4 separate regions of the Homo sapiens genome follow, and all the other regions are linked to region 1. The links come from fine-mapping of genetic effects on gene expression. A gene starts in region 1. Each other region holds a variant in brackets. All regions are shown on one strand. Distances are from middle to middle. Region 1 holds the start of ALKAL2 (ALK and LTK ligand 2). Region 2 holds the start of LOC124907599 (a long non-coding RNA gene). Region 3 has its middle 69 kb from the start of SH3YL1. Region 4 holds the start of LINC01865 (long intergenic non-protein coding RNA 1865).

The links.
Region 2: its variant is fine-mapped to the expression of ALKAL2 in whole blood (TOPMed, PIP 0.95).
Region 3: its variant is fine-mapped to the expression of ALKAL2 in lung (TOPMed, PIP above 0.99).
Region 4: its variant is fine-mapped to the expression of ALKAL2 in whole blood (INTERVAL, PIP above 0.99).

What each region holds. Positions count from the first base shown.
Region 1 is chr2:284,966-293,067 of GRCh38, forward strand. It overlaps ALKAL2 (ALK and LTK ligand 2), which reads right to left and starts at 3,126. Exons shown (of 6, transcript NM_001002919.3): 1 at 3,048-3,126; 2 at 2,618-2,927; 3 at 1,325-1,378; 4 at 1,158-1,238. The coding sequence starts at 2,870. It overlaps LOC101927262 (a long non-coding RNA gene), which reads left to right and starts at 964. Exons shown (of 3, transcript XR_007085917.1): 1 at 964-1,659; 2 at 5,713-5,786; 3 at 7,183-8,102. LOC105373346 (a long non-coding RNA gene) reads right to left here. Exons shown (of 6, transcript NR_189079.1): 6 at 5,976-6,155. RefSeq lists an enhancer at 1-900 and a silencer at 2,641-2,690.
Region 2 is chr2:425,561-433,662 of GRCh38, forward strand. It overlaps LOC124907599 (a long non-coding RNA gene), which reads left to right and starts at 2,857. Exons shown (of 2, transcript XR_007086058.1): 1 at 2,857-3,371; 2 at 3,751-3,890. The variant C/T (reference allele first, on the strand shown) is at 4,426.
Region 3 is chr2:190,676-198,777 of GRCh38, forward strand. No RefSeq gene overlaps it. Among named protein-coding and RNA genes, the nearest start is that of SH3YL1, 69 kb to the right of the region's middle. RefSeq lists an enhancer at 6,927-8,102. The variant A/G (reference allele first, on the strand shown) is at 3,217.
Region 4 is chr2:314,893-322,994 of GRCh38, forward strand. LINC01865 (long intergenic non-protein coding RNA 1865) reads left to right here and starts at 1,392. Exons shown (of 4, transcript NR_146953.1): 1 at 1,392-1,853; 2 at 2,951-3,171; 3 at 6,790-6,924. RefSeq lists an enhancer at 1-352. The variant A/G (reference allele first, on the strand shown) is at 3,347.

The DNA of each region.
Region 1 (8,102 bases):
ATGGAAGGGTGGGGCCCAGCACCAAGAATATAAAAACTCTTCAGGAAGTGTGTGCTGCTGGCCTTGGCGTGAGGATGATGTTGCTAAAGGTATGGTCAGAGGGGCCGAGGCTGCGTTCCATGCATCTTTGTGCGGTGATGTGAATGCTAAAAGTGCATGTGCCTTAGCCTTGTCCAAAACGCGCTGGTGACGCTACTTCAGTGGGCCAAGGTTCATTGGCATGCACCCGGCACACAGAAGCAGCTCTATAAATGATGGTTATTATTATTTGAAGTAATTTTGCTGCCTAAACAAAGAAAAGCACTTATACTTCGTGTACATTGGCTTTTCGTTTGTTTGTTTTTGGAGAGGGAAGGCAGGACAGCAAGTCCGGAACGCTGCCTGGTCCAGCTGGAGAGCCCTGATGACAGCAGTTAGCAGGATGCCTAGTGTTTCTGCATGACTTTTCTCCTGTGAGCCTTAAATAAAATCAAAGTTGGAGTCCGAATTAAAAAAAATGGGTTAGGGCCCTATCACTGTAGCTAATAAGGCTTCAGTGAAGAGAACAAGGAGCTACTTTTGGAGAAATAAAATGTTTTGTTATGAATAAATAGCCAAAAGCAGGTTAGGAAGACTGAAAAGAAACAGGAGAGAAAGCTACTGCTGAGAGCTATGTTGATAAGGGCAGCTCTGCATTTCTGAAGGAGTGATGGAGCCAGCCAGAGAAACAGTTTTGAAATCACAATGAAATTCCTGGGTGATGAGGTTATAATTACCAATGGGAAGAAAAAGTCTCTGGTAAGAGCAGTGGAGATGATCCAGGTCAATCTTATTCTTGGAGTCAGTTTAGCAACTCATTCTTAACATCTGACTGCCATAGTAGAGTACACACAAACATGGGCATTGGAGGAGAATTAACAGGAGGAGAATCGGAGTTCAGCCCATCCCAAGAGCCTATTATTCCAATGACTGTAAATAATTTCCAGTTTGGCGTTAGCTGATGCAGAAGTTAGTTATCTTCTGCAATGGTCTGGCGATCTTGGCCCCTAACTCCATAGTGAGGAAGGAATAGGCAAATTTGAGCTAAGAAGGCAGGGGCCTATATGAGGAAATGGAAAGAGGGGAACCGCTGCCTGCACTGCTCTTGCATTTTATAAAAATCCAATGCTGTTACTTACATGCAGGAATGGTGCAGTCTCTGGTGTTGTGATAAAGTCTATGGAAGTGTTTGCTGCACTTTGGACTAAAATAAAGAGGGCCTGGAACACGGAAGAAGAAACAGATCATGAAGACTCACAGGTGAAAAGGAGCTCTGGGAGACGTGAGGAACGAGGAGAAAACTTACCTGTAAGGTGTTTTAGAAACTTGTCCTTCATCCTCAGATCTCGAGGAACAATTTCTGTTTCAGGGAAAAGAAAGTATTATATTACCTGAAGGACGCATTTTTTAAAAATGTGATCTTAAGTGAATGTTGAAGAAAATTGGAGCTCCATATTAGCCAAGTTGCTTTGCACAAAATAAAAAAGACTGGGGCCCTGGATTGCAACACACGACAGTGAAGAAGACTCAATATCAGGGACATTTATTTTCCTTGAAATAACAGTAACTGCTCCTGAAGCTCCAGGATTATGTCGGCTGTCTACCCCGTGGGATGCAGACAGAGACCACGAAGTTACAGAGGTAAGAAAACTGTTTTTTTTTTCTTTTAAACATTTAACTTCCAGTGAATAAGTCACTTTTAGGCACTTTAGTTTTAAGGACCTTGGGAATCAAATCCCACAACATTTCAAAGTTTTTAGAGAAAACCTGACCCTTCAAACAAAAAAATGGGTTACAGAACATTACTTTATCTAGATACATATTTAGAGTAAGGATTAAAAGACCACGTTTCAGTGAGGTGTAAATTAGTGGGAATATGCATGAACCTGGTTTGTAGGGTAAGAATCCCAGGGAAAGACTCTGCCAAGCAAACTTCTTCCACCAGGGTTCTCCGCACACAGTGGGTGGGGAGAACCCTGCAAGGGCGTTCTTCTTGAGTTCAGCTTTGTTTTTGCGTATTTACAGCCCTCTCCATCTTCACTCCCCCGTTCAGGGCTCCTGGCTGAGCCCCGACTGTGTGTGAAGTCACGCCCTCTGAAGAGGAGCATTCGCATCCACAGCTGACCCCCTAGTGAGTCTTCATTCACTCCTAACTTGACGCAGCCGGGATAAAACTGACCTTATCATGTTTGACCTGATTGTGTCACAAAAGCATTAGACGCTTTCATGCTTTCCTGGGAAATTCCCCGTGGGCCACCACTCTGGGCAGGGCCATGAAGGAGCCTGGATGCTTCCTTTTCAGTTGGGAAAGCTTTGCTGGAAATGCTTCCATTTCCAAAGTGACGGTTGACAGTTTAGTGTGGAAACCACCGACCCGCGCCGCAGCTCACGCGCGCCAGAAGGAGACCAGGCGCTTCTCCGCCAGGCCTCATGCGCGGACCTATTGCTGCTATTTTCTTTTTCTTAAAAAAAAAAAAAAAAAAAAAAGGAATCCTGCTGTTCAGTGGTCAAAATTGATGTCTCTTTTTGAAACGTGTTTCTCAAAGACAATTCTATTTCCCAGCAGCCCCGGCCCTCGGGCGCGCTCGGCCCCACTCACCCACTCGCTGCTCCGGCGAAGGCCCCAGCCCCGCCGCCTCCGCGCGGCCCAGGGCGCAGTCCCGCCCGAGGAGCTGCAGGCCCTTGTGCTCCGCCGAGTGGTGCTTCCGCAGCTCCTGGACGAGTTCCACCACCAGCCGCAGCAGCGCCTGTCCGTCCGCCGGCTCCCGGGGCTCCGCGCCCCCCCGGCCGCGCCCCGCCGCCCCCAGCACCAGCAGCAGCCCCAGGAGGAGGGGGTGCCCGGGTCCGCGCATCGTGCGCTCGGGGCCGCGGGGCTGGGAGACTCCGACACGCGCCGAGAGCTGGGCTCGCTGCGAGAGAAGGGGCGCGGGGGGCCGGAGAGAAAGTCAGCGGGGGAGGGGGACGGAGCGCGGGGCGGGGGAGGGGAGGGGAGGCGGGAGGAGCCGCTGGCGCTGGACCCGGCCCCTCACCTCCGCGGACCCCGAGGAACAAGCCGGCAGGTGAGGGAGCCGCGGTCTCCTCGACGATCACGCCCGAGGTCCCGCCCACGGGGAGCGACCGCCGCTGGTGCGGAAAGGAGCCCCCGGAACCCGCCCGCCCGCCAGCCCGGCCCCTCCTAACTTTCGCCCGAAAGGCCGCGTCCGCCGAGCGCGCTGCGCCTGGCGCGGGCGCAACTTTCTTTCCCCTTTGGAAGCCGCGGGTGCCAGGCAGCTCCCCGGCCGCGGGCGGACCTCGGAGGGGCCGCGCTCCCGCGCCTACCGCTCTCCAAGAAGGCGGCGCCGCGCGCCGGGCCCGGCGGCCGCGCTCAAGTTTCCAGCGTCGCCTTTGCGCGGTGGTCGCCGGCGAGCGCCGAGTCCCCGAAGCCCACGGAGGAGGCCGGGTGCGGACCCTCGCGCTGGCCCCGGCCGCGCCACGTGCTGGAAGCCCCTCCACCTCCCGGCCATGGCGCCCTCCCGCACCTGCCCGGCGCCACCCGGGAGCCACCTGCGCGTCGTGGCCGGGCCGGTTACCTGGAGCCGCCGGAGTCGTCGCCGTCTGTGCGCACGTCTGTCCCCGCGCCCCGAGCTGCGCCACTACTCCATGCCCGGCGGGCGGAGCGCACGGGACGCGGGGACTCGGCCGCTCCGAGCGCTGGACCCACGGCCGACCTGGGGTGCGCCGGCTCCGAGTCCCGCCTCAGACCTCGGGGAGCTTCTTATCCCCGCGCCCGCCGACGTCAGGCGGGTCCCCAAGGGCTCCGAGCGGGGCTTTAATTAGAAGCCGCTGAAGTGTTAGTACCCCCATGCGGATCTTCGTCAGTCCCCCCGCCTCACCTCGCTCTCGCCTCCCCCCGTCTCCCGCTCCCCCTCAACTCCGCCCCCGCCCCCGCCCGGTCCCCCCACCCGCATCTCCACCGCGTCTCCCCCTCGCCCGCGCCCCGTCTCCCGCGCCCCTTCCCTCCCCACCTTCCCCATCTCCCGTCTCCTCCTCTCCTGCCCCACCTTCCCCCACTCCCCGTCTCCTCCTCTTCCCCCTGTTCTCCTCCCCCCGCCCCTCCCCCAGTCTGTTTCCCTCCGTTCCTGTCACTTGTGACAGGATGAGAAGAAACGCCTTTACCAGGAACTCGGTTCTGTTTTTGTCTAAATGTAGATCTTGGGCTATTAAAAAGGGAGCTGCCTGATTGCTTCGACATTTAATAAGTCAATTAGAGTCCATCCGTTTTGGAGGGATCCGCTCTCCGGACCTCGAGGGGTCTGCCCCGCCCGAGCCCAGTCCCCAGGTTCGGGTCCCCAAGCCCTGGTCCCCGAGGCGGGGCGGCCAGGAGGCAGGAGATGGGCGGGTGAGGACTCTCCACGGCCCCCGAGGTGCGCACAGCTGACCACCCGAGGAGGGGCAGGACCTGCACCCCCTCCCCAGACCCCCTGCGAGAGGACGAGCGAAGGTCCCTCCCCGGCAAGGACCGCGCCATCTGCGCGCTCCTCTGCGCTGGACCCTCGGCCCGCGGGTCCCTCGCGCCCCGGCAGGGAACGCCCGCAGGAGGGCACTTGCCTCCCGGACTCGTCTTTAAGAAAGTTTGGCTCTTTGGCCGAAGCCCGGCACATCTGTGAAAGTTCAGCAATTTGCCTCTTTTATTTTATTCTTGTAAAATGTATTATCAATCAGTTGCGCACTTTCCCATTCGATTGGTGCTTTCTGGGCAAGAGCTGGACGTCTTCCAAGTCCGCGATCTGTTTGGGAAAGGTGTTCTGAGTGCAATCAGAGAGGCGGAGTGGGCGAGAATTAAAGGCCTGCACCATGATCGGGGCAGTCGCAGGACCGCGGCGGGAAGGTGCTGGCCCAGGCGCACGTGAGCGCGGGCGGTGCGGGCGGAAGGCTCCGCGCCCCGATCCCCCAGCTCCCGGAGAGGCCCCGTCTGCGCCCGTCCCCGCGTCCTTTCTCTCTTCCTGCACGGGGTCTGTCTCCTCAGGAGGAGAAAGTGTCCGGCAGAGCTGGGCGGGGAGGCAGCGTGGAGAGAGAAGATATGAAATGTGCCGGTTCCGGACCCCGCCCCACACCCTTGGGATCTGCGTTCTCTCCGCTCCCTTGAAAAACAGATGGTTTGATTTCACAGCGAGGCTTTTCTTTTTCTTTTTGCAAGCTACATGACTGAAATGTGAACATTTCTGCTAAAATACACTCAGGAAAAAGTAAAATTTTATGTCAAACAGACCTTAGGCACATAAAAGGAGGCATTTTTCGTTTCTCTCTTTCCCCTTCCCATGTCCAAGAAGACACTTGAGTTCCACGGGCAAGAGCGACGCCTGGCGATGGAACCGGCCCTCCCCGGCCCTGCTCCCGGTCCTGCTTGCCGGGCCCACCTCGCAGCTGGTGGACACCGCAGTTCCCAGAAAAATAGAACCATGAGAAGATTTTACTGTTGTAAAATAGCTTGGTGTAAGACAGTTTTTCAAAAAAATCTTTGTATGGTAAAAAGAAGAAAACACATTTCACGTATTATTTTAAATTTACATAGACCTATTAGAATAGTATTTTATAAAATCAAAAGCTAAATTTCTTCTATAAAATGCTAGTAGGATCTATTTCCCCCAACACACACAAATTCTACCTACCGAGGAAGCCTTGCTAGTAATTAATATTATGTCTTTTCTTTTGCAGTTTTTAATGGGACAAATGGATTCCTTGAATGAGCCCTTTCTACCATCCAAGTGTGGGCCAAGACTTCCGCCCAGGTTAGTAGAGGTTTGGTGGATAATCAACAGCAACAGAGCTGATGCTTGGTTGGTCTTTGGATTAATGAGATCTTACAATTAAGAGTCAGACAATTTATGTGTTCATTTATTTTTACAAAGTTCTCTGCCAAAATTATCTAGGTGCTGCTCATTTTATATTATAGAAACAATTTTTACAGACTAACAAACTTAGAGTGTACCACCGATTTGTTAATCTTTATTGAATTTTTAAGTTAATGGTATTGTCAAGACGAACCCCTTGGAGTTCTCCAGTCATCAGAAATAGGTGTGCAGTCATCCCTTGGTATAGCGTGGGACTGGTTCCAGCAGATACCGAAATCCAGGCACATTCACGTCTCACAGTGGGGCCTGTGGAACACGCAAATACGGAAAGTTGCCCTCCCTCTGTGTGCGTTTCGCATCCTCCAGCTGCTGTGTTTTCGACCCACGTTTGAAAAAAAATATGTAAGTGGACCCCTTCAAACCCGTGCTTTTCAAGCAGGAAGCCAAAAAGAAAAGAGATACAATTAGCAACAAACTATATTCTAGAATTACTGGAAAAATTTTTTTCTAGATTTGATTTAGTTTGGTTATCTTTTTGAGAAAACTGTGTTGGATCATAGGAAGAAAACCGAGCAGAGGAAAAAAACCTGTATTTAATCTACCCTAACAGTACTATATATAGGTCCTGAGATGGGTGAGTTGATTTTTTCAATTCATAAACAGGTTAAAGTTCTGATGTTTTGACTGCAATCATTTTTTTTCTTCATCCAGAGGGTACGTATTTAATTTTAGATGAATATTAGCTGCCCTCAAAGACTTCTAAAATACCTGTGTTAACCACATGCTTTAAAATGAATTGTTATATTTTTCAATCATTATGGCAATCATTTAACAATCTAACGAAGTTTGTATTGTAGAAAAAAATCACCTTTCATAAAGGATAACATCATGTACTATAAACAAATATTGCTTACTGTTTAATATTTACCAATTCTGCTTTTTTAAGCTATCAAAATGCTATTAGTGTGCTAGGCACGTACTAGACAGTGTTTAAAGCATTTAGGAAGACAAGCTTTCTAACAGGATTAATTTTCCTAGTATAAATGTAATAAATATAGACTCTTACAAGTGATAATGTATGCATGATATCTGCAGCTTATTCTAGATCAATGAAGTACAGCATTCTATGTAACACTTCTCCCCTTCTAGGGAGGAAGAAGATGATTCCAAAAACATGGTCATCCACCCCTTCCCATTCTTCAACACTGCTTTTGCATCTGCAGATGCACACGGCTATGCATGTTCAGGAGAGAAATTAGGTGAAAGTTGTATTTAAAGGGTTGGGATAAGATAGCATGGCTGATTTACTTTTTTAAAAAATTTATTGTTCCAGGCCAAGATAAAGAGGACTTTTCATGGGGAAAGGCTTAAAGGAAGTATGGACTTTACGTTGTTCCTTCAAACTGGATTTTAGTTATAAATTCTGAAACCACTGTGATGCTTACTTGCCATTTGGAGGCACCAATCTGACATCTTTTGATGGAAGTAGTAAGAATAAATTTGAAAGAACACACCAATCATCAACATATCAGAAAAATATTATCCATGACAATATTTCAACAAAATATAGTCATAGATGCTGAGTAACAACACCAATATATCTGCATTCCATCTGTTTTCTGCAGGAAATCAGATATCCTGATCAGAAGTGACACACACAATGATCTAGGTTCATCACAGAGACATCCAAAGTGTCATAAAGGCACCACCTACCAAAGTGGGTTGTTGTTTGTTTCTAGGATAAGCTAAGCACAGTGATGGGGATGCCTCCTGGATAGAGGGAACTGCATATGCAAACTTCCAAGGAGGAGGCCCCAGAACCTCTTGGATCTGCTGGGAAGACTGGGCTGTAGGAAGAGGGTGGGAGGAACAGATGGAGAGTCACCTCACCTGAACTCCACTTTCTTTCAAGAATGCAGCATAGCGGACTGCAAAGGACGTGGGCTTCAAAGCCACAGAAATGGGCTCAGGTTCTGATTCCTGCTCACATCTGTGTGAACCTGGGCAAGACAACTTCTTTGAGCCCAGTTTTTTCATGTCGGAAATGACAGGAGTACGTACAACCTCAGAGGTTTTATAAACATTAAATAAGATAAAGTATGTTAACTTTTTAGTATAGTTTAAATTTCTTTTAACTGACCAATTATTGCTATTACTGCCTTTCAGAGTGTCTGCTGTCATAATGGCCTCTTTTTTCCTGTATTTTATCCCTTACAATATGGCATGAAAGAGAGCATTATCCAATCCTAGAGA
Region 2 (8,102 bases), 140 kb after region 1:
GTGGAAGACTCAATCATTAAAAGTAACAGATTTTTACTGAGCCAAATTATAGAAGCCTGAGGCCATAAAGGCAATGTTAAAAATTCACTCTTCCCCTGATTGTTGTAGAAGAACACACAACAAAGTTGAACATGCTTGAATGTAAATTTTCTCACCATGACTTGTTGTAATATATTACATTATCAAGGAACATGAAAATGAAATGTGCTTTTCTAGTTTTTCGGATGCCATTCTCTCAGTCTCTGCAAGGCTTGGGAAGTGGCCAGCCTGAAGGACAACGAGGCTGTGTCTGATCATGGGGTGCTACTGAAAAAAGTGACAGAAATGTTGGAATGATGTACGATGTCCCCAGCGCTCTGAAATAAAGGAGAGCTGCCTCCATTTCCAAGGCAAGAGGTGGGTATGGCTGAGGTGGGCCCAGGACTACACCTGGCATGGCTGTGGCCCAGCGTGCGGCTGACGCTGAGGTTGGTCTCTTCACTCCGGGGCCCAGGCTTCGCCTCTGCTCCTCGCCTTTGCTTTCCCTCAGAGCTGAACCCAAGTCGTCCTTCCCAGCTGCTCTCTCATGGTAGGGATCCCACTCAGCAGGGCGCCGTGCCGGCTTAGCACCAAGTGACCAGGGGAAACAAGACAGGGATGTGCCTGGGGAGCCTCTTCTGGGGCCCTACTTACTGCCATCGCAGGGGCCCTACGGGCGTCCTCCGGGATGGTGTCACGGGCTCTAGACCCACAAGCAGGGTTGGAGCCCCGGCGCTACCCACATCTGTCCAAGTGATATTAAACCTTGCAAGTCTTTCTTTCCTGTGAGAAATAGAAAAAGCATATTTCCTACTTTAGTGCATGGGTGAAATGAGATAACCCATCTCATGCATGAGAGTCCTGATGGGTGACCCTATAGTTCCCTGGCAGGTCCGCAGGCACGCAGGGGGCTCCACAGGCACGCAGGGGGTTCCGCAGGCACGCAGAGGGCTCCGCAGGCACAAAGGGGGCTCCGATGGCACGCCGGGGGTTCCGATGGCACGCAGGGGTTCCGCAGGCACGCAGGGGGCTCCGCAGGCACGCAGGGGGCTCCGCTGGCACGCAGGGGGTTCCGCAGGCACGCAGGGGGCTCCGCTGGCACGCAGGGGTTCCGCAGGCACGCAGGGGGCTCCGCAGGCACGCAGGGGGCTCCGCTGGCACGCAGGGGGTTCCGCAGGCACGCCGGGGGCTCCGCAGGCACGCCGGGGGTTCCGCTGGCACGCAGGGGGTTCCGCTGGCACGCCGGGGGTTCTGCAGGCACGCCGGGGGCTCCGCTGGCACGCCTGGGGCTCCGCTGGCACGCAGGGGGCTCCGCAGGCACGCCGGGGGCTCCGCAGGCACGCAGGGGGCTCCCCTGGCACGCCGGGGGTTCCGCTGGCACGCAGGGGGTTCCGCTGGCACGCCGGGGGTTCCGCAGGCACGCAGGGGGCTCCGCAGGCACGCCGGGGGTTCCGCTGGCACGCCGGGGGTTCCGTTGGCACGCAGGGGGTTCCGCAGGCACGCAGGGGGCTCCGGTGGCACGCAGGGGGCTCCGCAGGCACGCCGGGGGCTCCGCAGGCACGCCGGGGGCTCCGCTGGCACGCAGGGGGTTCCGCTGGCACGCCGGGGGTTCCGCAGGCACGCAGGGGGCTCCGCAGGCACGCCGGGGGGTTCCGCTGGCACGCCGGGGGTTCCGCTGGCACGCAGGGGGTTCCGCAGGCACGCAGGGGGCTCCGGTGGCACGCAGGGGGCTCCGCAGGCACGCCGGGGGCTCCGCAGGCACGCCGGGGGCTCCGCTGGCACGCAGGGGGTTCCGCTGGCACGCCGGGGGCTCCGCAGGCACGCCGGGGGCTCCGCTGGCACGCAGGGGGCTCCGCAGGCACGCAGGGGGTTCCGCTGGCACGCCGGGGGCTCCGCAGGCACGCAGGGGGCTCCGCTGGCACGCAGGGGGCTCCGCTGGCACGCAGGGGGCTCCGCAGGCACGCAGGGGGTTCCGCAGGCACGCAGGGGGCTCCGCTGGCACGCAGGGGGCTCTGCTGGCACAGCCACCAGAGATTGTCTTTTTCATGTTCCCAGTCATTTTGCTTCAGGTGCTCATTTTGAAGGTATTTAGGGAGCCGCAGTTGTCTTCTACGAGGCTGTGTTCTTCCATTTCATGGTATTCGTTAGTAAATAAAAGTTATAAATTTGTATGTAGCTGAATTGATTGGCATACTTTAACATTTATGCTTCTATAAATTATTTAAGATACTATGTTATTTTAGTTTTTAATGAAGATACTCATCATTTTCCCCCTAAATATTTTGAAAATTTACTTTTTATATTAGATCTTTAATCCACCCAAAATACAGAATAGATGAACTGTCACAATTTAAAGAAAATACAACACACATAATAGAAAACTGGGCAAAAGATTAGGCAAGTTATAGAAGAGAAAAATGAATAGCTAGTACATTCATGAAAAGATTCCAGCCTCACTAACAATCAGTAACATGTGAATTTAAACCACAAGGAGATGACCCAGTGATTAAGTGGCAAATGTTTATGCCTCACAGACAAAGTGATAGAGAATGCTGTCTTCTGCTGTCTTTGGGCATTGCCTCTGCCTGGGGGCTGTGCCCTCCACCTGTGGGTTTTGTGATTTATGGATTAAATCTGCCCGGTCTGTCCGTCTTCCACACTTCCCATCTTTAGAAACTTTTCATGCTCGTTTTCTAAGTCTTGGAGGATTGTTTAGTTTTGTTTTCTGTTTAGTTATTGAATTAAGTGTCCATTGCCACAACATATGACTAATTTAACTTGTGAATCTGTGTTAAATATATGTGATTACATATTCTGCTATTTTTCTTCCTTGCTCAGCCTTACAGAGAGGGAAGTCTGTGTTGTATATTGACTTCTAATCAAGTTATGGCCTCCATCAGAGATTACAGAGGTAGGCATATATCCCTACATTTCAAATCAAGAGAAAAAATAAGCAACGATGGCTTCACCTGCAAATGCATGTTCTTTGTTCGGTGAACCAGGAGACTGAGGGGCTGGGGTGACTCTCCTCCGGGCCCCTTTTCTTCTCTCTCTGGTGAGTACTGGGCTTGGGTCCAGTGCCTGAAAAACTGCCTCACTTGGGCCCAGCCTGCCCACATGTCCTGCCAGGTCTGGGACAAGCCCCCTCCGTCCCAGTGCTTTGTTCAGCATTTTGCCACCTTTTTGGTGCCTCTGCTTCCAGAGCCTGCAAACCCATTGTGGAAAGGAAAGCAGCGGGGTCGCCCGTGCCCCTCAGCCATGCCCAGCCCCAGCCTGTGGGTTTGGACAACCCTCCCGCCCGGGTCCTTCCACTGACTGACTAGGGGTGTAGAGACACTGCAGGAATCAGAACAGTGAGTTAGTCTCTTTGGTTTGGTTCCATCTCCACTGTGTCTAGAGAAATGTCAGGAAGGTTCATGCAGTGTCACGCCATGTCTCCTTTCACATGTGGCCTTTCTCCTGTGGCCCGTGCTAATCATTTCTGTGAAGCATTAGTGGACAGAGGGAAGTTACTGGGTGACATGGTTTGGATCTGTGTCCCCACCCAAATCTCACGTTGAATCGTAGTCCCTACTGTTGAGGCCTGGTGGGAGGTGGTGGGGCCATGGGGGTGGAGTTCTCATGAATGCTTTAGCACCACCTGCCTTGGTGCTGTAAAGTGAGTGAGTCCCCAAGAGATCTGGTTTTGAAAAGTGCGTGGCACCTCCCTTCTTGCTCTTCCTCCTGCTCCAGCCGTAAAAGGCAAGTCGGCTCCCACTTCGCCTTCTGCCATGATTGGAAGCTCGCTGAGGCCTCCCCAGAAGCAGAAGCCGCCATGCTTCCTGTACAGCCTGTGGAACTATGAGTCAATAAAAACTCTGTTCTTTAAATTACCCAGTCACCGGCATTTGTTTTTTAAAGCAATGTGAGAACAGACTAATAGACTGGGCTATATTCACTCATCCTCTAGGCAAGACATGTCTCCTAATCATCTAAGATTACATTTGGATTTTAATTCTATTCAGCAAAGGGTGTAGAAAGTGTTGTGCCAGGTGCCGGTAAAGACAGGAAAATAACTGAGCCACACAGGTGCTCTTGGGCAGAAAGCAGCACTGCATGGGTCAGACCTGCCGGCTCCCTGCCGCCCTTTAGTCAGTGGCTCCAGCCCTGCCCCGGTTTGCAGGGCCTCCACCCCACTGAGGAGGGCCTGCCAGGGGCACAGCAGAGCAAGGTCAGCAGCCACCAGTAACGGTGGACAGGAAGACGTGGGCATGGGTGAGCCATGCTCATCTGAACGCCACTGAGTCAGGGAAAACAGCTGGTGGAAAGGAGAAGGACAGCATAATAGAGTAAAACACTGCAAATCGAACTTTGATGGAAGAACTCTAAATAGCAGGCGGTAAACAGAAATCTCTTTTATGAACGGGA[C/T]GTGGGCTGGTGGCAGAGACGGCAAATGGATGGTCCAGGCAAGCGCTGGTAAACAGGAAGCCACAGCCGCGCTGAGCGTGAGCTCGAAGGGCACACGGAAGCATCGCTGTCCCCCAATTTCTATTTTTTAAAATTTGAAGTAGAGCTGCTATAATAACCAGATCAAACTAGTGGACAAGAGAACATTTTGTTTCATTTTTGTGTGTGTAGTGAGTTCCTTTATTGCACACTGGATGATCTATAGGAGCAATGAATTCCATGATGAAAGAAGACTCAATAATCAAGCCATGCATTTTAGTTTTAATTGTTGTATTTTTTGCTTTTTTTTTTCACTGGAGAGAGGAAGTCTGGTTATCACAGCCTGGTTTGTGTGTTTCCCTGGCCACACACTTAAATACAAAGATCCAGAGCCCAGGCTCTTGTCTGGACCATGTAGGGGAAGAAATAAGACTCACTTGCATCCTGGGCTCAGGATCCTGCAGCCTGCGGGGTGACGAGATGCACACAGGACCGTGCCCGCTCCAGGGGGACGTGACCCTGCAGGCAGGAGTGGGAGGGGTGCCGCAAAAGGGCCCTAAGCGGGCACCACTCCCAGCCATGGCCCATCCCTCCGAACGTGAGGGCACAGAGAAAAAAACACAGTACTCACCCCCTGGGAAACTGAAATTGTCAGATAAGCTACTATCTGAGTTTAACAGGAATTTTCAGAAAATAAAATAGAGATGAAATATAATTGTTAGTGGATCACACAGGCTTCATCTCATGAGAAACAACAGCTTCCTGTTTTTCTCTTAAATTCTCTGACCACCTAAAAGAACAGAGTGGGGCAGGACGTCCTCACACACACATCCTACGAGGACGGCTCCAGGAACCACAATGGGCGAGGAGGGCTCGGGCGGCCGCTGATTCTCATGACTCTGTGGGTCTCAATGCTCCATGAGAACGTAGCCCAGCTCATAAAAGTGACCGTAAGATCCGTCTCCTCACAGCGAAGACTGAAGCAGTGCCACCAACTGTCTATCTCTTGACTTCCTATTACTTGGGGAAAAAAAGTCTCCACATATTTAAGATGCTCCAAGTTGGGTCTTTTGTTCCACAAAGGTGAATTATTTGTAACTAATTCAAGAGGATAGAATCATTACATAAAAAGTAACCATTTTGAAATCTAAAAATATCAAACAATTTTTATAAGCATAACGTGAAGTAATCAGATAACCAAAGTCAGTACATTTGACTGCATAGATGTCAATTCACAAGCCCTGATCTGATGAAGGTCACCCATGCATGACGCTGGCTGGGGGCCGCACTGCCACACTACTCTGGGAGTATGAATCCATGTGGCCCTTTGCACGATCAAAAATCAATGTGCATGATCACCTGAGCTTGCTTACCTTCTCTTACCCTACGTTTCCATTCCTAAATACACACCTGAGAAAAATTCTAGCACACTTTTGAAATGAAAAATATAAATAAAAAGAATTGCTTTTAGAAGTATAATTTGTAATGATTTATACCGGTGAAAGATATCGGGACATCTCAGGATATAAAAAGAGAATATATAAATATTTTAAATACATTTACACAGTATAGTAGTATGCATTAGTGAAAAAGAATGGAGTATAGTTATTCATGACTTGGATAAATGTTAGAAACATAATATTGAGTGAAACGTTATCACTTAAGACTATATAAAATATAGTGTGTTTATAAAGTTCAAAAATGGCAACTTAAACAAAAATGAGTAATTATGGTATAAACAAGTCTAAGTCACATTCGAGAGGGGAGTCATTGTTGGGTTTGCTAAGCCTTAGGCTGAGGGGCATCTTTATCACCTTCCATGATTTTCATACAAACATTAAGACCCGATCATCATGCAATACATGAGGTCCCTAATTTAAAAGGTGTAAATGTGTTGTATTAGTATGGCGAGGCTAATGGAAGGCAGTATTCATTTTTTAATCTGCCTATTATTTTGGGGAGAAAGCCAAAAGAAAAACTACCTTTTGAATATTAGTCCTTCTCGAACTTGAATCTTCTCGAATGTAGGAACCTCCTGAGTATTTTGTTAACATTTGGACTCTGGTTCAGCAGGTCTGGGTGGGCTCTGAGGTTCTGCACATCCAGCCAGCCTCCAGGAGATGTTCATGTGCCACACTTGGACTCACCAGACTGTGCATAGAAGCTCTTCAGAACGTGGAGAATCCTAGCCCCTTCCCATGTGAGTATAAGGAACGGTGTTTAGTGAAAAGATAAAACTGGATCCATTCCTCACAGTGTATCCTAAGATAATTTCCAAATGGATCATATTGAAATGCAGGAGATGAACCCCTATACAGAAACATATATCTATTATTTTATTCCCCATGACTCAAAATCCAGAGGCAATAGAGGAAATGTGGTAGGTTTCATTATATGGAAAAATATCTACATGGTAAAAAGCATAAGCTAATGATAAATGGAAAATATTGACTGACAAGTTATATCACACACGAAGGGTTGGCAGTCCATCTACATTAAGAACTTCTAAAACCACAGAACAGAAAGACCAATAAGCATATAAAAATACATTAAGTATATGAACAGACTGTTCATAGATAAAGAAATGCTTTTTTAAAAATACTGAACTTCATTCATTACAAGAAAAACACCAATTAAAACTAAACTAAAATAAAAGCATTTCTTTAAAAAAGTAGCCTCTTCTGTTGACTATAAGACAGGGCGTTCTTTTACAAGCTGGTGGGAATGCAAAATGCTAAACTGGTGTGAGTGGGAAGTTTTGCAATATCTGGCGAAATATTATATCATTTTTCTCTAGAAAAAGCAATCCTACCTCCAGGGATTTAGCCTTCTGAGCACAAATACTAGAAGACGTATGGGGCTCAATTTGCAATAGAATTGCAAGTAAGCAAGCTAGAAAACAGCCCGGCTGTCCCAGGCTCTGTCCTGGGTGTGAGATTGAAGAGGAAGCGATATGGCATTTTCACACAACATAAAAATATGCAGTTACAAAAATGAGTGAGAAATATCTCTAGCATATGTTAAGGGAAAAAGCAAGGTGAAGAAAAGCATGTAAAGTATTGGAAACATTTGTCCATGAAAATAAGAAATATACATGCTTATTTGCTTATATTAGAAAACATGAAATGATAAGTTGCACACACTATTCCCTGGAACCCGTCACCCCGTTTTTACAGCTATGGATCCATAGCTCCTCCAGCTTCACCCGTAATTCTCCGTTCATTTACTAGAGAAGAAATGTCAGGCATTCTATCAATCTCCTAGGTCTGCATGAGGAATCCCCGCAGACGAGGTGGCTAAAACAACAGAAATTCATTCCCCCTCAGTGCTGGTGGCCTGAAGTCTGAGATCAAGGTGTTGGCAGGGTTGGTTCCTTCCACAGGCTTTGAGTGAGAACCTGTTCCAGGCCCTGCCCAGCTCCTAGTGGCTGCCAGCCATCCTCGGAGCTCCCCAACTTGTAGACATGCCCTCCAGTCCCCACCTCAGCCTCCACACAGTGGGGCTCCCTGCATCCCCTGCACCTGAGTCCAAATTCCCTGTTTTTATCACATACAACTGGAGAGTCATGCTGGAATTAAGGCCCACCCTGACCCAGAGGACCTCATCTGAACTTTATTACACCTGCAAAGCCTATTTCTAAATACATTCACATTCACAGG
Region 3 (8,102 bases), 94 kb before region 1:
GCTTCAGGAGTAAAGCTGCAGACCTTCCCATTAAGTGTTACAGCTCTTAAGGCGGCCCCTCTGGAGTTGTTTGCTCTGCCCGTCTGAAGTTGTTCATTCCTCCCAGCGGGGGTGGGTTTGTGGTTTGAAGCTGCAGACCTTCACAGTGAGTGTTACAGCCCGTAAAGGTAAAGCACACCTAAAAAGTGAGCAGCAGCAAGATTTATTGCAAAGAACAAAACTTCCAGGAAAGGACTGCAGCAGGTTACCTCTACTAGCTGGGGCAGCCTGCTTTTATTCCCTTATCTGGCCCCACCCACATCCTGCTGATTGGTCCATTTTACAGAAAGCTGATTGGTCCATTTTACAGAGAGCTAATTGGTCCGTCTTGACAGGGTGCTGATTGGTGCGTTTACAAACCTTGAGCTAGACTCAGAGTGCTAATTGGTGCATTTACGATCCTCTAGCTAGACATAAAAGTTCTCCAAGTCCTCACCAGATTAGCTAGATACAGAGTGCTAATTGGTGCATCCAGAAACTCGAGCTAGACACAGAGTGCTGATTGGTGCATTTACAATCCTCTACCTAGACATAAAAGTTCTCCAAGTCCCCACCGGACTCAGGAACCCAGCTGGTTTCGCCTGGTGGTTCCCGTGCCTGGGCCGCTGGCAGAGCTGCCCGCCAGTTCCCAGCCATGCGCCCAGCACTCCTCAGCCTTTGGGCGGTTGATGAGAGCAGGCGCCACGGAGCAGGGGGCGGTGCCCGTTGGGGAGGCTTCGGCAGCGCGGGAGCCCACGGTGGGGCGGGGGGTGTCAGGCATGGCAGACCACAGTTCTAGAGCCCTGCCCCGCAGGGAGGTGGCTGAGACCCGCAAGAATTTGAGCGTGGTGCGGGAGGGCCGGCAGTGCTGGGGGACCCAGTGCACCCTCTGCAGCTGCAGGCCCAGATGCTAAGCCCCTCACTGCCCGGGCTGGCGGTGCTGGCTGGCCACTCCCAGTGTGGGGCCCGCCGAGCCTGTGCCCACCTCCCACCAGCACTGTGCACAGCCCTGGTTCCCGCCTGCGCCTCTCCCTCCACACCTCAAGGCAAGCAGAGGGAGCCGGCTCTGGCCTCTGCCAGCCCAGAGAGGGGCTTCCACAGTGCAGCAGCGGGCTGAAGGGCTCCTCAATCGCGGCCAGAGTGGAGGCCCAGGCCGAGGAGGCACTGAGAGCCAGCAAGGGCTGCTAGCATGTTGTCACCTCTCAGTATGGCCATTATCAAAATAACAGAAGGTGCTATATGATTCCACTAATATGAGGTATCTCAAGTAGTCAAAGTTGTAGAAACAGAAAATAGAGAGGTGAAGGGCTGGGGGGTTGGGAAAAGAAAAGGAATTAGTTCTTAGTGGGCATAAAGTTTCACTTCTGCAAAATGAAAAAGTCTAGGTACCTGTTGCACAACAGTGTAAATATACTTGACAGTGCCAACCTGTTCACTTGAAAAGTTTAAAATGATAAAGTTCATGTTATATGATTGTGACTACCATTAAAAATAAAATAAAAAATTTAAAAGCACATGTATGCTTGCCAACTTTGGGACATAATTACCCAGAATAGTAGAAGCTTTATGACATCAGGTTAAAAAAATAATAGCGAAACTGAGGGTCCTCTGGTTTCCGTCCCAGGACTGCCCTCATCAGTTTCAAGTTGCTACCTGCATTGCCCGGTGACAGCCACTCGTCTTTCTGTTCCACTGCACTTGTTTCTTTTTCTTTCTTTCTTTCTTTTTTTTTTTTTTTTTAAGACAGAGTCTCCTGGGTTCAAGCAATTCTCCTGCCTCAGCCTCCCAAGTAGCTGGGACTACAGGCACACACCACCACACCTGGCTAATTTTTGTGTTTTTAGTAGAGACAGGGTTTTACCATGTTGGTCAGGCTGGTCTCAAACTCCTGACCTCGTGATCCACCCCTCTTGGCCTCCCAAAGTGCTGGGATTACAGTTATGAGCCACTGCGCCTGGCCTACTGCACCCATTTCTATCGGCCTCCTCCCCAATCCCCATCCCATACCCTGATCAGCCACTGCTACGCTGCCGTAACTGATAGAGGCAAAGTCACTCGATGAGGGCAGACAGCTGTGTACTCTGCCAGGCTACCCAGGGGAAAGTTGGGTGGGCTTGAGGATGGAGCGTAGTGGCCAGATCTGTGATTGGTGAAGATATTAGAGAACTAAGCTGGAGAGAATTTGTGTTGTTGTAACTATGATGGAAGAAAAATAAAGAAAATTCGGCATGTTTTCTTGGCCAGGGACTAACACAGAAAGAAGAACACATATCTAACACCTCCCTTTAAATTTTTTAATGCACCTTCCTTCCCTGTGAAGAAACCCGGTGATCTATTATAGAACGAGATTTGCTGGAGGCCACCTGGCTGCTGTCAATGGGGCAGTCAAGTCTTCCCAAATCTGAAAACTGCGCTTTTTACATGTTACCACACCAAGGGTCTTTAGCCCTTTGAACACCTTAGCAAGTTCTCCATTTTAACCTAATGGTGCAAAACCAGGGAGGATGCCGTGATGTTAACACTTTTACCACAGAGTATGTTGCAGCCGACGTCTGTTCATTCCGTGGTGAAGCTTGGGGTTTTCCAGTTCTCGGTCCACGAAAATTAGCTGTAAAGGTTTTCTTGCTTGTGGAGGCAGCCGCAGGCCATGTCCGACTTGTCAGCCAGACACAGAAACTAACTTGCACCTCATCCGGCAGCGCTGTGTGGGGCACCCTCCAGTCTGTTTTCGGCCCTGAAACCCGTTAGTCATCCCTGCATTTTTGCCAGTCCTTTGTGGGCCAGCAGAGGCCTGTGAAGAATTTAAATCCTTAACCGTGCATACTAATGCCTGGAGGCTTCCAGAAGCCCCGTCCAGCTGCGTCTCACCCGGAGCCCAAGGCAACTATAAACAGGCCACAGAGGCAAAGTTCTGCTGCTCAAAATTACAGCTCCTCCCGGGGACACTATTTCCCTTCTGAAAACATCTGGCTCCCAACGTTTTCTAGCTTTGAGGGAGGCAAAGAGAGGGTTATTTTAGAAAATTTTTGTAACTTTCCAGTTTTACATGGTCTTGGCCCTTCTGTGGCCTGTATAGACATTTTCCCATAACTAAGAACATACCATAAGCCTGAGGAGAAGGTCGCTTTTTATAAAAAAAAAAAAAGTCACTAAGCCTCCAAAAGTATCTTGTTTCTTGCTAGCTCACAACCTGTGTTT[A/G]ACGGATAACAAAACACATAGAAATTAATTCTTAACCATTGCCCCTGTGGGTGTTTCGTTTGGCTCTGGGTACACAGGGAAGGGAGAGCTGGGCAAAGATGGAGCCGGCGGTTCCTGGACCACCAAACCAAGCACGCTGGAGACCACATCTGCCAAAAGTGTCCCCGTCACACTACAGCAGGAGCAGTGTCTTCCCGGGTTAGGGAGCTTGAAAAGGAAGAACCTTCTGTTGTCGACATGGGCAAATGTGTGACTGTAAATGTCCCAGGAGCCTGTATTGTTATTGTTTGTTATTGCCTGTCTCTGTGATATTGCACTGCACGTCACACGCTCCTTTAATCAGTCTAGAGGCTACATGTTTAGAACTTTACAAATCATCTAGTGCAGAAACAATAATGAAAACCGAACCCAAACCTCAGAATTCTTTTTTAAAAAAATCAATGTTAACATTCTTTCTACACTAAGACCATGTACCTGTATTTTCCCACACACGCGTTCAGTTTGTGATCATATGTGTGACATGTTTTCCTTCATTCTGATCATAGTTTAGGAATATATTCGGGTATGTAATTTATTTCACTTTCTATTATAAGCATGTTAATGTGTTGCTACATAATCAACATTTTATTTTGATTATTGAACAATACCCTAAAGCTTGACTGCAAGACTTACATTTACTACTGTTGTTTGATATTTTTATCACTGCAATAAACACCTTTTATTATAGTTTTCTCCTTCTCTTTAGATTATTTTTTTGAGATACATTTTCATATGTCCATATATTTAGGCAAGTAATATTAGAGACAGGTATTGTGTTTTTACTAACTACTGTTTACTTGGAAGGCTTGAAATAGTGTGAGTTGAACCATCCTCATTCCTGAGTTAGAGGAAAAACTGTCCCCCAAGGTATCTGTGTCTTCACACATTCTTTACCCTTCGCAACTCTTAGTGGCACCATGTCTCTCCGGTGAAAGGGCAAAGGCCCTCTGTCTCTCCTCTCAAAGCACCCCCACCCATGCTGGTCCTTCCCCACAGCCGTCTGCTTCCAAGCTCCTTGCTGCATTCCTTGTGAGGGGAAATGGCCCCTGCAGGGTAAAGGCACGATGCTTTGCAAATAATAAACCAAAAAATCACCTCTGACTTGGGTCAAGCAATTTGACAATGCTAAGAATAAATGATGCACTTTTCAGAGCCTCCTGTTAATCATCGGGAACCTTTCTGGGCTCAGGGTCGGCCCTCACTGCAGTTCCTGCAGGAGTTACTGGCCAGGCCCAACCAGGCACCAGCTCTCCTCTAACTTCTTGACTCAGCTCTCAGAGGCTGGTCAGAAAGGCACGACCTTCCCCCAGAACCACCTTCCCAGGCTCCACGACTGGAGCAAATCAGATCCCACTTTCCTAGGAGAGTCTCCTAAAGGCCTGGAACGTGGCCCAGGCCTTCTTTAAAGTGTTTTGCCCCAGAGAGGAGTGTTTTTGCTTCTACCTGGTACCAATCTTTCCATTCTAGAATTAGGGCTTGCTGGGCCACAGAGACAGCATGAATTGAACCCCAAATCAAAGCACTGAGTTGAGGAAGACTCTGGAGTGATATTTTTGGTCTCATTTCCCCTCCACCAGAATTCAAACAGAGTGATTATCCTGAGGGTCTGTCCCCTTTTCTCATGCTGTAATTGTCCCCTTTGCAGGACTCAAACTTACAAAGGCCATTTCCACCGCCCTCAGGTGAAACCTATGAACCCCCATGCCTCGGCCACATTTTCCTTCTGGGAAAATCACAGCCTCAGCCAATCAAGGCTGCCTGTTCTTACAGATTCATACCTCTAAGACTCACCTTATTTTTCTACTTACACAGTCATAAATTTTAAAATGTTCTGTTTGTTTTTATTTTCCTGGCACTTTCTGTGCTGGGAGGGCTTCCCTAGTTCACAGGTTCGCCATGTTGCCAGAACGTGGGGCCCTCTCTCTTGTTCATTGTTCATTGTTATTAAGGACGTATGGTAGTTCTCAGCCAGTGTAGTGTCCTCTCTGTCTTCTCTGTGTTTCAGTGAAACACAAATCCAGACTCGCTTAAGCAGAGAGTTTACCTGAAGTTCTCATTTTGAGAGAGGGAGGGGACTTCATGACACAGGGTGAATGCTCTGACCCCAAAGAACTTCAAGCATCTCAGGCAGAAAAGCACTTTTGTTTTAGGAGGAGGGAGTAACCAAGCCTAGAACACCTGGGTGAGGCATGGAGGGGCCCGTGGCGCAGTGGACAGTGGGCAGGAAATGGGTCAGCCCACTGGGAAGAGATGGAGGGGAGGGTGGGGTCCCCATCGCAGCATTCATGGGTGGGCTTGGCCGAGAGGAGAAGCTGAGTCGAAGTTCGGCTAACAAGTATTTTTTTAAGATAGATCAGTGGAGTCAAAGCAGTTCAGCTACACATCTGTGGGACAAAAATGGGAATGCAGAGGGTCTGATTCTGGCCCTGTCACTGGTGAGTCTTGTCTGTGTCATGTGGGGAAGGTGGTTCTTTTCAGTGGCTGCTGGAGCTCAAAGTTGTGGGAGGGTGGCTCTTAACTTGCCCTCTTTTCCCCATCACAGGGCAGGGGAAAGTCCGATGTTGGCAGTAGTTACTGAAACAGATTTTTGTCCCTGGTGGATTTCATTTGGTGTCCAGAGTTTAACTGTTACGGAGTTCTCTATGCTACAATTTTGTTGAGTTCATATTTCAGGGGCCCTGCTGCTGTGTACGGTGGCCTTCAGCCAGGACGTGTCTTGGCCCTGGCCGTGAGAGCCATCTGGGCTGGGTGAGGCTGTGCCCACCTCAGAGGTGGGGCCAAGGACCTCTGTCTTCTCTGGTGGAAAGAGCCCTTCTCAGGGTCTAAACAGAAACATGGGAGCTTTTGTGAAACCATTATAATCTCCTGGGAACAGAAGCTTAAGGGTTTTAGTCTCTTGATTTTTAGTATTAAGGAGTTTGGGATTGTATGCATACATCAAAACTCAGTCTTTCTTGGCTATATATTTTATAGCTTTAAAACTCCTATATTAAATAACCCTTCCAATACTGCTACAAATTAAAAACCTGGACCAAGTGGACCTCAACTAACTACTGCAGCCACCCCTGCTGGGGGCAAGCCAGAGCCCACTAAAACAGGACATTTGGCTACATTTACAGGGCTGTTTAAATGATTTGAAGCAACAGATGTGTATATTGACTTGGAAGGTTTTGCAGGAAACTGTGTTTCAGTACTTAAATAGCATACTGTAAGGGCTGACCTTGATCCAAGGGGTCACAAATGTCACCTCGTTGGGAGGTGTCTTTTCCAGGATCTACGTTATAATTATGATCTCCTTGGAAGCACCAGGGGAGAAATTCCAGATGGTTTTGCAAGGATAAAGTGAGAGCAAATGAACATCCAGGTTATGTATTCTTACTCTATTAATTTCTACTTGAACTCATTTTTAATGTGTTTTTACTAATATTAAGAAAATAAGCCATGATATAAAGTGTTGGAAAGGAAAACCCTGACTGCACACCCCAGCCCCGTAACAGAACACAGAAACGCGCAGGGCCTTTTCCCTTCTGTCTGCCTTTCCGGCCTCTGGACACAGAAACGCGCGGGGCCTTTTCCCTTCTGTCTGCCTTTCCGGCCTCTTGACATGGAAACACGCGGAGCGTTTTCCCTTCTGTCTTCCTTTCCGGCCTGTTGACATGGAAACGCGCGGAGCCTTTTCCCTTCTGTCTGCCTTTCCGGCCTGTTGACGTGGAAACGCGCGGGGCCTTTTCCCTTCTGTCTGCCTTTCCGGCCTGTTGACGTGGAGACGCGCGGGGCCTTTTCCCTTCTGTCTGCCTTTCCGGCCTGTTGACGTGGAGACGCGCGGGGCCTTTTCCCTTCTGTCTGCCTTTCCGGCCTGTTGACGTGGAGACGCGCGGGGCGTTTTCCCTTCTGTCTGCCTTTCCGGCCTGTTGACGTGGAGACGCGCGGGGCCTTTTCCCTTCTGTCTGCCTTTCCGGCCTGTTGACGTGGAGACGCGCGGGGCCTTTTCCCTTCTGTCTGCCTTTCCGGCCTGTTGACGTGGAGACGCGCGGGGCCTTTTCCCTTCTGTCTGCCTTTCCGGCCTGTTGACGTGGAGACGCGCGGGGCCTTTTCCCTTCTGTCTGCCTTTCCGGCCTGTTGACGTGGAGACGCGCGGGGCCTTTTCCCTTCTGTCTGCCTTTCCGGCCTGTTGACGTGGAGACGCGCGGGGCGTTTTCCCTTCTGTCTGCCTTTCCGGCCTGTTGACGTGGAGACGCGCGGGGCGTTTTCCCTTCTGTCTGCCTTTCCGGCCTGTTGACGTGGAGACGCGCGGGGCCTTTTCCCTTCTGTCTGCCTTTCCGGCCTGTTGACGTGGAGACGCGCGGGGCCTTTTCCCTTCTGTCTGCCTTTCCGGCCTGTTGACGTGGAGACGCGCGGGGCCTTTTCCCTTCTGTCTGCCTTTCCGGCCTGTTGACGTGGAGACGCGCGGGGCCTTTTCCCTTCTGTCTGCCTTTCCGGCCTGTTGACGTGGAGACGCGCGGGGCCTTTTCCCTTCTGTCTGCCTTTCCGGCCTGTTGACGTGGAGACGCGCGGGGCCTTTTCCCTTCTGTCTGCCTTTCCGGCCTGTTGACACGGAGACGCGCGGGGCCTTTTCCCTTCTGTCTTCCTTTCCGGCCTCTTGACGTAGTCTACTTTTACTCAGCTCCTGTCATAGTGCTTGTAAGGTCGTGTATCCTAAATTTTCTCTAAATGATATATCATAAGCACTTTTCTATGTTGTCATTTAGTTGTAGTAATCAACATTTTAATGACTAAGTGATATTTCAGAGCATTTCAACATTCCTGAATAAAATGATAATATGGCCGTAAAAACAATGAGGTTGTAC
Region 4 (8,102 bases), 30 kb after region 1:
TGGTTCCACCGACACTGGAGGCCAGGCGTGGGCCCTCCGTAAAGTCCCCCGTGTGGGATTACGGGACAGGCGGCGGAACCCCAGTTTAACCCTGGGTGTGTTTGGGCACGCAGCCATGCCGACTAGAAGGACCTGAGATGGATTCGGTTCGCGGGGAACGGAGGTGCCCTAGCTCCCGTTCACGACCGCATCTTAAAAAGCAAAGTGAGCCAGTTTTTCGCAAAGATGATTTCACTGGATTTCCGCGTTTAGCGTCACGATATGGGGGCCTCCGAGCGCCTCTCTGGGCTTCCACACAATGGGCCACATCACGTTTCTGACCAGAGAAACACAGGTATCTGTGCTTGTAAACATCTGGAATTTAATTCGGTGGAAAAAATAACTTGTGGGGAGGGTGATACACATCTAGGTCTGTGTTCAGCTTGGGGGCTTGCCAGCCAGTGGCTTTTTTATCGTCTTTAATCCTGGGAGAGTTGTTACTGAAAGAGGTAGCATTTAGTGCAGCTCACAAATGCGTAACAATCCCCCACTTCAGTGAATCCAAAGAAAACACAGAGATTACAAAGCACCGTTTGAGGCCGGGATCAGGAGGCAACCAAGACAAATAGGTTTCTGTCCATTTGGACAGGAGCTTTGGGGGCTCGCCTGTACTTCCTCTCTCACTGGCTTTAGGTGACTAAACCTTGGGGCTATTCTGTCACTGCTGTGTAGAGCTGGCATCGAGGTCGAACCTGTTTCTTCTTCGAAATCTCTTGAAACAACTGCTGCTGACTGGGAAGGTACGGAGAGGCTTGGCTGCAGTGAGTGAAAGGCTGTCTCTCTTGACGGTGTGGCTCTGTTCCCCAAGTTGAAAACATTGAGGCGTCTGTCTGCAGCCCAGACACCTGCTGGGGGTCCCTCACCACCGTGGCCAGACCCTCCTGTCTTCTGGTCCCCTGTCCTGGAGGCATCTCACTGCCACCAGGAAGCTTCTCTGGGTGTGGGGGGGCAGTGGCCCCTGGACAGCTGACTTGTCAGGCTTAGAGGTTGCTTTGGTTTTGGCTTTTAGTGTATTTGTTCTTGGATATGGTTTGGCTCTGTGTCCCCACTCAAATCTCATCTTGTAGCTCCCATAATCCTCACGTGTGTGGAAGGACCTGGTGGGAGATGATTGAATCACAGGGGTGGGTCTCTCCCATGCTGTTCTCATGGTAGTGAATGGGTCTCACGAGATCTGATGGCTTTAAAAACGGGAGTTTCCATGCACAGCTCTCTCTTTGCCTGCTGCCATCCACGTATGACGTGATTTGCTCCTCCTGGCCTTCTGCCATGTTTGGAGGCCTCCCCAGCCACGTGGAACTGTGAGTCCAATTAAACCTCTTTCTTTTGTAAATTGTCCAGTCTTGGGTATGTCTTTATCAGCAGCATGAAAACAGACTAATACAGTTTCTACATGCATTTATTTAACACTTAACTAATTTTCTCACTTGGTCTTCATGAAACAGGTGTCTTTGAATTGAGGAGAGGAGAAAGAAGAGGAATGATTTTTTAAAAACCATAAAACAGAGGTTACCCAGTGCCTTCAAGACTAAACTTTATTATAGTTTCCACAGCAAGTAGCTGGAGAAAGTGCAACCAAGGCTGCAAAGTGGACAGCCGTGCAGTGCGCAGGGTGCGGGAAGGCAGAGGGGTGGCCCCGTGGCCCCTCAGCCCAGGAGTCTCGAGCCAGTGGCTCTTGGGGCTGTGGGTTGAAAACAGGCCAGCAGCTTCTAGCACGTCCCTCGCGGTGTTCTTCACCTTCTCCCAAGAATGCATCCCTCGCAATGCTCTCTCGTGTTCTCTTGAGGATACGCGGCTTTTGGCCATGGCAGCAGGTCAGTGCCCACAGGCTAGGATGCCAGCAAGCACCTGGGGGGCTGTGGGGTCAGCAAAGCTGTGTGGTGAGACTGGAATGCACCTACTGTGTTTCTGATAGACTGCTCTGTTTAGCTGAATGTTTGAAACATGGCAGATACTCAATAAATACTTTTAATGGTTAAATCAATTCATTTACTTCATTTGACCAAGAGTGGAAATTTTAAACAGGACATTGGGGAAAATTTTCCATCAGAAAGGTTTTTAATTATCTTTAAATCAAAATGGTTTACTTAGGTGATATTGAAGGCCCTGTCTTAACACAAAAAGCTATTTAAACAGTGTTACAATGGTTATTGCAGAAAGACTGTTCAGAAGAGCCTCATTAATAAAAATAGCAGTTAATATTCCGAGAGGAAGATTCTCTTATTAGGACAACCAGCAAGCACTCACCAAAAGACAGGGTAGGCCCAGAGTGTGTCTATTTGTTATGGGGACCCAGACAGTGTTTCCTGTATGAAAACTGAATAGCGCTTGTAACTTAGGGCATATGCTTTGCATATTATGGAATAGAGTTCAGATGGGATTTTTGTCTCATTGCTGAATAGATGGTTATGGGGCGGAAATAGGGGGTGCATGAGGGTCACCGCCCACCTTGGTCTGAGAGCATCCTCGGAAACTTGAATGTAGGTGGCCTGAGGGAGGCCTGGATGGTCCTGAGCTGCCCGGCATGGGCCAGTGTGGCTGAAACAAGTGATAAGAAATTTAATTTAACTCCCTGAATAGTGGAAAATGGACGAGTTTTGTCGAGCTGAGTCAGGGAGGAGTGTTGTAGGAGGCGGCGCTTGAGCGGCGAGAGAGATGCAGACTCGTTTCCTGAGCGCGGTGGAGCCGGGTCTTGACCCAGCGGCTCTGCACAGCTCGCCTCATTCAAGGCAGGTTTTGGTCCCAGCTGTTCCACTAATTAGCACATGACCCCGGCAGGCAGCATGACCTCCTTGACCTCTGTCCTGTAGGACCCCTGCAGGCTCCGTGCAAATTCAGTTAGAATGACTCACCATTCTCCCAAGTAAATGGTATTTTTCACTTTTTGGCAAAACCGTTTTCTCTTGTACAGTCAGAGCTGTCAGCCCACACAAAAGAGGAAAGTCTGAGGCTTTAGTTTGATGAACACATTTATATGATGGGACGAACATCAGAGCCCGCAGCTCTCGGCCCTGCTGGTGGCAGAGGCTTTGTACTGTGTGACAATGACCTGGATATGGAAGCAGAAGGGAGCTTCTAAGGACCGGAAGCTGAGAGTCTGTCTCCTGTCCCGGCCCGGACACTGGGGTTCAGGTAAGAGGGTGGAAGGACATTGGCCAGGTCAGGGCTGCCGCGATGGTGCTGTGATGGTTACGGCTGCATCAGGGTCTGGCAGGAGCTGGGCTTCGCCTGGAGGCTCCCAGCTTCTCACAGCCCCTTGCACCAGCTTTCAACAGGGGGATTGCAGGAGAAACACTTGATGAGTCAG[A/G]GACGGGATGTGGTGTCAGGGTGACACACACACTTTCTCAGTTTCAGGAGAACTTGTCTGTCATTTTGGCAAAAAGTTTTTCTGTGTTTCTAAAGAGACTGGTTCTTTCTTGTTATCCCCGAGGATCCAGTTCCTGTTGCCCTGCAGCTAATCAGCTTCACCAGACATGGACCTCCAAGCTTAGGGATGCATGAATCTGAAATCCAAGCCATGGTTGTAATAGTGATAATATGAGGAAAAACTAAGAAACCAGATTTTCACATTGCTTTCGGAATGGAGCAACAAGCAGATGCTTGTACAATCTGGTGTCAGCCAAAAAAGAGCCTGTTTCAATAAGCAGAAATAATAAAATACTGAATTATCCCTCTTTTTGAAAAAGAACTAACCAGTTACAGTGCAATATCAGAACACGTTTATTCACTTGCTCTCAATAAACGCGAGTGTGAATGTGAGTGAAGGCGGTGAGCTTCGCTGCTGAGCCCACGTGGCTGAGTGGCGAGGGAGGCCGGCAAAGATGTGCCCTCGTGTGTCCACATTTTAGGAACACAGGAGACAGGCCTCGCTGCCCACGTTCCCCTGCTAGTAGAAGACATCTGCTGGGCATGTGTGTGTGTGTGTGTGTGGTTGTGTGTGTGCGGGTGTGTGTGCACGGGTGTGCATGTGTGCGGGTGTGTGTGCGGGCACGTGTGCAGGCGTGCGTGCAGGCGTGTGTGCAGGCGTGTGTGCATGGGTGTGTGTGCGTGTCGTGTGTGGCCCTGTGTGTGCGGGCGTGTGTGTGGGCGTGTGTGTGTGGGCGTGTGTGGGCACGTGAGTGTGGGCATGTGTGTGCGGGCATGTGAGTGGGCGTGTGAGTGTGTCTGTGTGTGCGCACAGGCGTGTGTGCGGCTGTGTGCGTGGGCACGTGTGTGGGCGTGTGTGTGGGCATGTGTGTGGGCGTATGTGTGTGGGCGTGTGTGGGCGTGTGTGTGTCGTGTGTGCACAGGCATGTGTGCGGCCGTGTGTGTGTGGACACGTGTGTGTGGGTGTGTGCGGAAACGTGTGGGGGCACGTGTGTGTGGGCACGTGTGTGCCTGGGCACGTGTATGCGGGTGTGTGTGTGTGGGCGTGTGTGCGGATGTGTGTGTGGGTGTGTGTGGGTGTGTGCGTGGGTGTGTGCAGGCGTGTGTGCAGGCACGTGTGTGCGGGTGTGTGGGGGTGTGTGCGCGGGTGTGTGCAGGCGTGTGTGCGGGCACGTGTGTGTGTGGGCGTGTGTGCAGGCAGAAAGCACCAAGATGTAAACAGCTGGCGCTCACTTGTGCACCACCAAAGCTAGAATGTTTCATCTCCCCTGGTGGCTTAGTAAGTGACAGAACAGCACCAAGATGTAAACAGCCGGTGCTATGCTTGCAGGGAGGCTGGAGGGGTACAGCCACTCCCCACACCTGCCACAGGGTTGCTTGATTTGAGCCGGCACATCCGGGGCCCACACCCCCTTCACCTTGGACCTCACGTGCAGTCAACGCAGCATGTGCTCATTAGGAAACGGAGATTAGAATGCGGGTTCCATTTTAGATTGGACTTGACACTTCAAACATCCTGAAGAAGTTGTTGTCTAAGGGTGCTGTGCGGTGGGACTGAGCTTTTAATTAAAGGCAGGTGGGGTCACCGCCTCCTTCATGTTCAAAGTTCTCAGCTACACAGTGGAGGAGGAGAGCTCAGGGAAGGAAAACTTTTAGTGTAGTTTTTTTTTTTTTTTTTTTTTTTGAGACAGGGTCTCACTCTCTCGCCTAGGCTAGAGTGCAGTGGTGTGGTCACAGCTCACTGCTAAGTTTTTAAGAGGTAAATTTCCGGTGGGAACTCCTGATCCATGCTGGTTACGGCAGGACCTAGAGCCTGGGATGCTCTTCCTGGGTTTAGGATTCAGCGAGCAAGGCCTGGTCTGGAGGAAAAGCGCCAGGCAGTGCCGTGGTGACTCCAGGGAGGGGCTGGCCACGTAGAGGTGTGCTGAGAAACTGTCTACCGCACCGCTTTGTACCTTTCATTCCATCCATGGATATATTTTAAAAGTTTGATTGTTATTTTTTTTTTATAAAAGAAAGAAAAAAGAATTAGCAAGCCTTTAGTAATAGGAATCCCAACTCTTTTCTATAAACTTGGGCCACTCTTTCTCTTCCCCCATTTATCATCACGTAAAATAAAGAAACAAAAGCAGAAAACATTTTTTCCCTAGGCTTCTACATCTCTGCTCCAACTTGGTTTGCCTGGTGGGCCTGGGGCACTGCGTCTGTATTCCTGGATGAGCAGGTGCCTCCTGACTTCACAGAGTGATGCCAGCTGCCATGGGCTGCTCCCCACATCCTCTCTTCATCTCTGAGCGCTTTTCACAGGGAGGTTTCATGCTTTCACCCCAGTCAATGGGGCTCATGCTTTCGCCCCAGTCAAACCTAGCCTGCTGGTCCTGGGTGCAATGTGACATCTGAATTGTACCTGCCTGGTTGTAGGTACCAACTAATGGATGCTGATCTTGACCACATCCTTCTCGGAAGTGGCTCTGGAGAGGCTGCTGTGGAAATTGTCATCAGGTGATGTGAGGTTAGTCACAATGGGCGATCAAAACTGTTGCTGGCTTAGACCCATATTCATCTCTTAAGCCTGTCAATTCAGAAGCTCTGCACATTGCTGAGAAAGGCAAAGGCCACAGCAAGAGAGAAAAAGACTGGGGAGAGAAAACCTCTAGACATTCAGGTCTTCCTGACAGCCAGTGCGAGGTAGCCCATGTGGAGATGCTCTGTCCTGCAGCACAGATGTCAGCTTCCGCTCCATCTGCAGTGACGGGGACCATGTCTGCAGCTGGAGCCATGGACCAGGCTAAATGGGATAGATTTCCACTCAGCCCCGAGCCCTCAACAGACAAGGATCCCATCTCACTTCTCATTTTTCTGGTGACCAGCACAGCCCGAGACACACAGATATATTATCTGCGGGTGTGGATAATGAACCCCAGTTACACAGCATTGAAAGCCCAGGGTCGTGCTCACTCGTGGATGCTGGATAATGAATCTCAGTGAAATGACCCTGAAAGCCCAGGGTCCCGCTCACCCGTGGGTGCTGGATAATGAACCCCAGTGACATGGACCCAAAAGCCCAGAGCTCTATCGGAGTCACAGAGTCCCTGCAACTGGGAAATCACCCAGCGCTGACGTTTTAGGCAAGAGTTGAGACAATTCATGAGGTTCCATGGCCTACGTAATAATACTTTTGGTAGAACATTTTAACCTATATTTATAGACAATCTGATAGCCATGCCACAAAAGAAATTTAAAAGTATATTAAGCATCTAAAATAATATTAATGTGTAGACATTAAAACACACTTACTTTGGATTTGAAAAGATAAGGTAAAATAAGTTGCATAAAAGTCTCATTCAGGCGATACATACCAATACTTACACCATTTGCTTTCAGGGAAGTGTGCTCTGCCCCCTGTGTGGATGCCTGTGTCCTGTGTGTGGCTGGAGTAGGACTTGGCTTGTGGGTGATCACAGAGACGGAGACTGAGAAGCAGATCGATCCTAGCTTTGCTACTGACAAAAAGCATGGGTAAATCACTGTTCTCTACAGTTCTTGAATCCCACAGGTGAAAGATGGAAATGTGTGTACAGGTTCCACCCACTCCACCTATGGCAAATCATGCAAAAAGGTCAACTGTGATGTATAAGGTCATTTTTTACCATACTCATCTGCGATGTCTGGCCAGGCATAAAGAGAGGCTTTTTTGTCCCCAGATAGAAGGAAGCCATGGATGGCAGAGGATGCGCTCAGGGGGACAGAAGGATGTGAGTGGGGCAGGTGGGGAGGAGCAGGAGGGATGTGGCTTTGGAGTCAGAATCCCAGAGTTGTATTCAGACTATGTGACCCTAGGCAAGTTTTACATTTCAGCTTCCTTGTCTGCAAAACAGGAACAAGAGTCCCTATCATGTAGGGTAATTGTGTACATGAAGTTAGCTCATAAATGAAAAATGTTTAACCTGGTGTCTGACCTAAAGGAACAATTGGTAGTAATTTATCCTCTTTTCCAATGCAGCAGGTAGTGTGGTGTTTCTCTTTCAGGCTAGTAGCCGTGCCATAAAATAAATTTAAAAGTATATTAAGCATCTAAAGTAATATTAATGTTTAGACATTAAAACACATTTACTTTGGATCTAAAAAGATTAGTATAAAACCTGTCTCAGTCATCACGCCCACCTTCACTTGCTGCACCTCCAGGAAGCAGCCGGGTGGCAAGAGAGGCGAGAGGAGCCATGTGACAAGGAGGGTGCGTGGGAAAGTGGGCCCATCCTGAGGATTGGCCATTATAAATACCGCTGTAAGACACAGGGCAGGCTCACCAGGACTGCCCTGCTCCAGGGAGCTCTTGGTCGAGAGCATGCAGAAGGAAGGGCGTTGCGCATGTGATACTTTGATTTTGAGATCACATGAAGCAAACAGATAGGGAAAACGTGTTGCTACTTTGGGAAACTGGTGAGAAGGATGAGAATCTCAAGATGGAGTGGCAAACCTACTTTAAAGGGGTGATCAGCTATGGGAAGACTGTCTTCCTGCTGCAGGACCCTGCGGACCCTGCTGACACGCTCATGTTCCCTTCCCTTTTCTAAGCTACACCGGGCAGTGTAAACTCGCCACCCACACCTGGCCTGTCACCACTCATGTCACCGGCCTCCCAGGAACACTCCACTCAGCAGTCAGTTCTTTGAAGTCTCTAGATGCTTCAAGGCCAG